Linked DNA regions of Homo sapiens. The protein of the gene in region 1 interacts with the protein of each later gene in a biochemical or structural test. Each region holds a gene or a part of one and is shown on either strand. Other genes may lie near its edges.

Region 1 (4,184 bases):
TTAGTAGAGATGGGGTTTCACCATGTTGGCCAGGCTGGTCTCAAACTCCTGACCTCAAGTGACCCCCTCACCTCAGCTTCCCAAAGTGCTGAGATTGCAGGCATGAACCACTGTGCCTGGCCGGAATTCCTATAAAGTTGAGTTTCTTTCTGGGCAAATCTATTGAGCTGCCTGTCGATGCATGCACCAGAACCACACAGCTTTAATTGTTGTCATTTATAATGTGTTTTTATCTGGTAGGGTTGATCTTCACTTCTTGCTTTTCTTTTTAAAAATTGTGCTGCTTATTCCTGCTTGTTTATGTTTCTGTTGAACTTGAGAGTTGCCTCGTATCTTTTTTTTTTTTTTTTCTTATGAGACAGAGTTTCACTCTTGTTGTCCAGGCTGGAGTGCAATGGCGTGATTTCGGCTCACCATCACCTCCGCCTCTCGGGTTCAAGTGATTCTCCTGCCTCAGCCTCCCGAATAACTGGGATTTACAGGCATGCGCCACCACACCTGGCTAATTTTGTATTTTTAGTAGAGATGGGGTTTCTCCATGTTGGTCAGGCTGGTCTCAAACTCCCTACTTCAAGTGATCTGCCCGCCTCGGCCTCCCAAAGTGCTGGAATTATAGGCCTGAGCCACCGCACCTGGCCTATTTTTTTTTTTAATCATAATACAGTTTTGTTGGAATCTTGGCAAATTTATAGATTAACTTGGGAAGAATTGACACCTTTGTGAGACTGAGTCTTCCCAGCCAAGAACAGACTATGTCTTTCCCTTATTTAGGTCTTCTTTTGTGTCCTTTTGGGAGCATTTTAAAGTTTTCTTCACCAGTTTATTTCAGTTTCTAATGCTTTCCTAACCAATCAGTATTTAATAGAATCTTTGACCTACTGCCTTTTCTTTTGTGAGGTTTCTCATATAAAAGCATTAACTCTTGCTACTCTTTTCTATCAATTCCTTACTTTAACTGCCCTAAGGCTTTATGTTAATTTTGCCCCTTGTTAATCTCTGAGAAACCAAACTTCTCAGTGCATTTTTTAAAAATCTTTCTTTGGCTGTTTTATGACTTGATAAAATGCCTTGCCTTGGTCCAGAGGAGAAAGAGAGAAATCAGACAAGGGAATGAGAATGACTTTTCCATCACTAGAGAGTTCACTGTAGCAGTTATTTCTAAATCATTTGCCTTCCCCATCTTGCCCCTTTGTATATTTGACCTTTATCAAATGATTTTTTCCATGTGTCAGATAGTTATTGATTTCTACCGTAAGCAAGGTGCTTTCTCTGTAGGAAAGACAATGACCAATAAGAAATAATCCTTGCCCTTCATTCAGTTGATAATTTAGAGAACAGCCTAAGATTACACTAGTAGTTTAAACTATACTTCTCAATTTCTCAGTACTTTCCAACTTTCCGTGGTTGTTTATTTAAACGATTTTTTGTCCTTTTTTTCTATTAGATTTTTTAAAATTTTATTTTTGATTGACAATAATTGTATATATTTATGGAGGACAATGTGATGTTTTGATATATACTTACAATGCAAAATGATTAAATCAGGCTAATTAATCTCATTAAATCACCTCACATACTTTTATTACTTTTTTGTTATGAAAATTTTAAATAGATTTGTTTTAAAGTTCTGTTTTATTGTTGTTTTGAGATGGGATCTGGTTCTGTCACCCAGGAAGAACCTGGTGGAAACTTTACAGGCTTGTGCCTTTAAAGTTTTTTTTGAAAAATTTTTAGACAATTTTAAACAAAATTTAAATGGTTATCATTTTTGCAAAAAGAGTCTTCATTATCATAAAGTATTTACATTATGGTCTTAAAAGTTGAGGATTGTTTATTCTGTCTATGCATAATTTCTAAAACTTGATATAATAAATCTCTTTTTAAATTTCCTTTAGCATATAATTTAGAAAGTTAAAAAAATCATGCGTAAACTTAATTGCTGCCATCCTGTTTTTCAGCCTGGCTGGGTTGTTTTGGACCAACCAGATGCTGCTTGCCATTTGCAGCAACAACAAGAACCTTCTCCTCTACCTCCAGGGTGGGAAGAGAGGCAGGATATCCTTGGAAGGACCTATTATGTAAACCATGAATCTAGAAGAACACAGTGGAAAAGACCAACCCCTCAGTATGTGCTGATGGCTTTCACAATTTTAATCTGGAAACACTTTAACTACGAATTTTCATTTTGAAGTCATGTCTCAGATGGATTCATAACAGTATAGTGATCCATAAACTATAAGAATACTAGGATTTTTATTGCCCAGGACTTTAAAAATCCTAACTCTGCTGTTTCGTTTTTTAAATGACTTGATAATATTCAAAATTACTTGACTCTAGATACTACCCTTTTAATTGCGTCTTAATTTTAATAGGTTTTTAATTTTATGTAGCCACAAATGGTAGATTTTTATTTTTAGGCTGAATTAGAAGTCTTGGAGAATTCTTGTAGTTTGTTATTAAAATGTAATAAAATGTTAATTTCTATAGTACTCTATTTTTAAAATATAAATTATTTGTAAAATATAAAGGACTCAATAATAAGGGTATTACGTTAAACGCGCATTTGACAGTCTGGTCAATGTCCACATAACTTCCAGCACGCACAGATCAAGGACGGAATGACTTTCAACATATTCTAACTTCTGTCTCCTCAGTGATTTTTTTTATTATTAGACTGTATATACATTTATAAAATCTCCCATTATTCATATTTATTCTCAAATCCCCTTCCATTTTTCCTTCCATATAGTCTTATAAAGTCTTCCTTTAGTCTTCTGTTTGAAACATACTCGTAATTTTTTAATGTGTTCATTAGCCTCCTAATTTTTGGCTATGATATTTTGTGCCTGATATATGCCAAGCACTTTTACAGATATTTTCTGTTCTCAAATCCTTCCAAAACAAATCAGCAATTCAAGTACTTCATGGCACAGAAGCTTCAGTCTTCATAGAGTGACGTACAGACTGCAAAGCTGAAGACACTATAAAATTCTGTAGAATTGCGCTGTTGCATACCTCAGTATTATGGCAAGCCTTACATGAGCAAAATCACAGTTCTTTCACTGTGGCTGATGTCATTTTCAGGTAGCCAAAATCATATATTTAGGGGGAAAAAAACTGAAGCATTCCCTTAGAGCCATGTATCAAAATTATGTTTTCTTTAGCTACGGTACAGTAAGAACTGGTCTTCTGACTAGCCTGAGCTCATGTCGCATTAAATAAACAGTAATTTTATTATTAAATATTTGAACAAAATTCTTGATCTGATAGACTGGTTATATTAAATGCAAATAATTAGAATAATATAAATGACTGGGGTAAGGGTGTTCAATCTGATTTTTTTTAATTTTAATTTCTGTGGGTCCCTAGTAGGTATATATGTTTGTGGGGTACATGAGAGGTTTTGATACAGGCATGCAAGGCATAATAATCACATCATGTAAAATGGGGTATCCATCCTCACAAGCCTTTATCCTTTTTGTTACAAACAATCCAATTATAGTCTTCTGGTTGTTTTTAAATGTACAATTAAATTATTATTGACTGTAGTCACCTGTTAAGCTATTAAATACTAGGTCTTATTCATTCTTTCTGTTTTTTTTAATACTCATTAACCGTCCAATCTGATTTATTGTACCTCTCCTAAGCTCAGACAAATCTTTACTATTACCTTTTTCAGGACAGGCCCATGACTGTATATTACGAAAAACAGATACCATTACTAATAGATATGTAATTCCTAAACCATTAAGCTTTTCATTATAAAGTTCTTACACCATCTTTCATTCTGCCCTTCACATTCATGCATGGAGTACTCTACTCCTGGCTTAAGACCAATTCTAGAAAATGTACTATCTGATTCACAAAGATGTATGTATGTGTAACTCTATTACTCTTATAATAACATGGCAAAATAATACAATGAAATAATCTATGAAGCGCTCTGATATTTATTCATTCAACAAATATTTTTGAGTACCTATATGTGTTGGACATTATCCTAGACATAGTGACAAACTAAAATATCAAATCAGACATGTTATACCTTTTCACAAAACCTTAAACTCCGTAAGGTACTCTAAATATACCAGTCTGCCTACCCATGATTGAATCTTTGCATGTTGAAATAGCCTTTGGTCAAAGACAATAAATTTTTTTATTGATGTAATGTAGATTTTTTTCCC
Region 2 (3,654 bases), on another chromosome or scaffold:
TATAGAAATTATTGATGAGATACTTTACATTTTTTTCATAACAAGTTTTTAAGATGCGGTGTATACTTTTTACTTATAGCATATCCGTTAGCACCAGCCACATTTCAAGTGTGCAGTGGCCACTGTGTGGGCCACAGGTCTAGAATATAAGACATGAAGATGGAGAGTGAGAAATGCCTTTGGAAAGGTTGGAAGTTCCTGTCCTTCTGCTGCCAATTACCAAATCTCCTGAGAGTGCTATTAAGGAGTGACTCAAAGCACTACACAAAGAGAATTATAAATATCTTAATATTATATCTGAAATCCAAATGCATAATTCTTTACATTTGGTTGGTACTTTAGAGAGGAGAGAATGGGCACAGTCACCCACACCACCCATTTGAGCCTCATAATCACCTGTGATGTGGCTTCCTCTAGGTGGGAAACCGAGGCTTAGAACGGTTAAGTGACTATCCCAGGGTGGCAAGATCATAAGTGGAAGGGTGTGAATTCATACTGTCTCCAGCGGACAAGAATAAAAAGACCCAGGCTGGGTGTGGTGGCTCATGCCTGTAATCCCAGCACTTTGGGAGGCCACTGTAGGTGGATCTCCTGAGCCCAGGAGTTCATTACCAGCATGGGCAACATGGTGAGACCCCATTTTTATTAAATATACAGAAAATTAGCCCAGCTTCTCGGGAGGCTGAGGTGGGAGGATCACTTGAGTCTGGGGGATGGAGGTTGTAGTGAGTTGAGATCGTGCCACTGCACTCTAGCTTGGGTGACAGAGCAACACTCTGTCTCAGAAAGAATAAAAAGATTTGGCCATGAATTCGTCAGCTAGTTTTCCTTACATAATTTTTGGACAAGGAGATCTGACATTCATAGGTTTTTCTCTTAGAAGTGGGAGAGCTTCAAGGTCACGTGGTCCGTCCAGCCCCTGCTATCTCACCAGACACTGTCCACCCTGTATGTTGGATCAGTACTCCAGTGAGAAGACAGCAGGCACTTTCACCCATGCAGCCCATTCAGTCTTCATAACCACCTGTGATGGAGGCAAGGCAAGTATTTCAGCCCCCTCTGATGAGTGGGAAACTGAGATGTGCCCCCTCTCTGCTCCCCACCGAGGACCTCTGCATGCAGGCATGAATCCCAGGAGCCTAGCTGATATTGGAGAGACGGGGCGGGGGGAACCAGCTGCAGGGTCTTGGAGGAAGCTGCTGTGTACACCTGCAAGGCTGCAGGTTACATCTATCTGTCAAGCAGTGAAGGAAGGAAGTTGTTTCTAAGGGATTGGAAAAATTCATTAATTAGTAGAATGAGAAACTGAGGTGAAGCAGGAGGTGGCAGGGTCCCAGACAGCATGTTGGACTAGTGGCCTGTGTCACTGTGTTTTTTGCAGGCGGGTGGCATGGGGTGTATGCTGACTTCTTATTCCAGGAGTTGGTGCCAGGAGGCCAGGTTTTCTTAACATCCTTGTTTTACAGATGTCAAACTTGAGGGCCAGAGGGGTAGGAGAGGAAGAGACTTTTTGTACCTTTTTTGGGAAAGAACAAGAGGGAAGCTGGCAGATGAATTTGAAGTGCATTGACCAGGGAGCTGAGAGAGGGCGGTCTGCAGCCAGCCCACACCTGGGAGGAGGCGGCAGGCTTTTCTGGGGACAGAGTGGCCAAGTCGAAGCAAGCTTAACCATCTCAACATGACACCACTCTTTCCCATTGGAACCTGAGAACTTGTTCAGTATTCTGACACTTAGCAAGGGACCTGGGTTTTCTTGGTCAGGTGTGCGTTTCTGGGTGACAGGCCTGCATCAGGTGTATTTTCGGGATGTAGTAAGTTGTGGAATATGGGTTTAGGGGCATCCTCTGGCAAGCACTGCTTCTATCCCAGCTCTGGGAATGTGCCCCATGCAGTGTCCTAGATGGCCCATCTGTGGTCTGCTTCCAAGGGTCTTTCTTTTAGTTAGTTAGTTTTGAGACAGAGTCTCACTCCGTCACCCAGGCTGGAGTGCAGTGATGCAATCTCGGCTCACTGCAACCTCCACCTCCCAAATTCAAGCAATTCTCATGCGTTAGCCTCCTGAGTAGCTGGGATTACAGGCGTGCACCACCACACCCAGCTAATTTTTGTATTTTTAGTAGACGAGGAATTTCACCATGTTGGCCAGTCTGGTCTCAACTCCCCACCTCAGGTGATACTCCCGCCTCAGCCTCCCAAAGTCCCGGGATTGTAGGTATGAGCCAACATGCCCTGGCACAAGGGTCTATCTTTGACCAATGGAACTGCAAATCAAGCCTCTTTTGTTACCAGAGTTACCTTGGATTTACCCTTATCTACTTGGTTTGGATAAATTGAGTTTGCATCAGATGGAGTCAGGCTTGATCAATCCCTTATTTACTTCCTCCCACCCTGTTCTCTAATATCCAAAAACCTTGAGGCACTATTACATGCTAGCTACATTTCCTTGAGTAAAGTACTTAACCTCTTTGAGCCTCAGTTTCTCCATTGCATAAAAGGAATAATAAAACTTATCCCCCATAAGTTTATAGTGAGGAATGAATTAATTCCTCACTATAGTTCTAAATTAATTCTACTTAGGGCATCCTTGGTACATAGTGGGTGTTCAGTATTCATTTCATTTTCTCTTTTCTGATTCCTTTCGTAAAAGTAGAAAAATGAAAGAGAAATGTTGACTTCTCTTTTGATTTGAAATCATTAAAACATTTTAGTAAGCCTTGGGAGGGAGCTAGTGGTGTGGCATGTGTATCCCGCTGGCCAAGCACATGTGAACGAAGCCAAGAATCCAGGGGCTTTTCTGCCAGCCAGCACTGACTCACTTGCGAGGGGCCCTGCCTGGCTCGGGGGAGGCAGGGCTGAAGTACCACATTAGGGCATGTTCCGGGGAAGTAGATTCTCTGAATAACTTGGATGGCTCCCTGGAGCATTTAGGACAGAAGCCACCTGGAAAATAGAGATGGTCACCCCCACGTAGCCTTGACAGTGCCCAGAAAGTCTTGTCACTTGGTAAATGTTAACAGCTATGATCCGTTCTTTAAGACCCTGGGGAGTTTTAAGTTTTACCCCACCAGACCTGAGAAGGGTAAAGGGCTGCAGATTCTGTTCTTTTAACTGGGGCCAGTGTGAGCCATCTTTGACTCAGTGCTTGCAATAGACCTTGATTCTGCAGTGGGACCTCCCAGGCCCCCTTGCCCCCCGCAACTTCTGGACTCATATCCGTCAGACATCACTTGTCACCTTCCAGCATCAGGGAGAACTGGATCCCTCCTGGCTCCACACTCTTAGGCTCTTTGTAAGTAGCTGGTGAGGGTTTTCTTCTCTCTGCAAGGGAGGCTGGTAGAACTATGGATGTGATTCGTACAATTTTAGAGACAAAAAGAAAGTACCCAGGAGGTCATTTATTTCAGCTGCTTCATTGCATAGGTCGGGGAGTTGAGCATGGAGTCCAGCAGCTACTAACTAGTTATCTCTGTACCTGGCTTCCATTTACTGGTCCTTAGCTTGTTCCGTGATTCTTCATTGCCCCTTATTTCTCACCAGAGGGACTGGTTGGCCCTAGATGGAGTGGTCTTTTTAAAATTTTTTTTTTAAATTTTTTGAGACAGAGTCTCACTCTGTCACCTAGGCTGTAGTGCAGTGCTGCGATCTCGGCTCACT

Evidence for each region.
Region 2: the proteins of NEDD4 (region 1) and FGFR1 form a complex in vitro, tested with the Homo sapiens proteins (2 studies listed by BioGRID and IntAct, with this or other methods).

What each region holds. Positions count from the first base shown.
Region 1 is NC_000015.10:55,860,854-55,865,037, reverse strand, and holds part of NEDD4 (E3 ubiquitin-protein ligase NEDD4), read left to right. Parts: intron 1-1,958; coding exon 1,959-2,125; intron 2,126-4,184. UniProt on the Homo sapiens protein: E3 ubiquitin-protein ligase which accepts ubiquitin from an E2 ubiquitin-conjugating enzyme in the form of a thioester and then directly transfers the ubiquitin to targeted substrates. Specifically ubiquitinates 'Lys-63' in target proteins.
Region 2 is NC_000008.11:38,458,482-38,462,135, reverse strand, and holds part of FGFR1 (fibroblast growth factor receptor 1 isoform 1 precursor), read left to right. Parts: intron 1-880; exon of another isoform or gene 881-1,029; coding exon of another isoform or gene 1,030-1,040; intron 1,041-3,654. UniProt on the Homo sapiens protein: Tyrosine-protein kinase that acts as a cell-surface receptor for fibroblast growth factors and plays an essential role in the regulation of embryonic development, cell proliferation, differentiation and migration.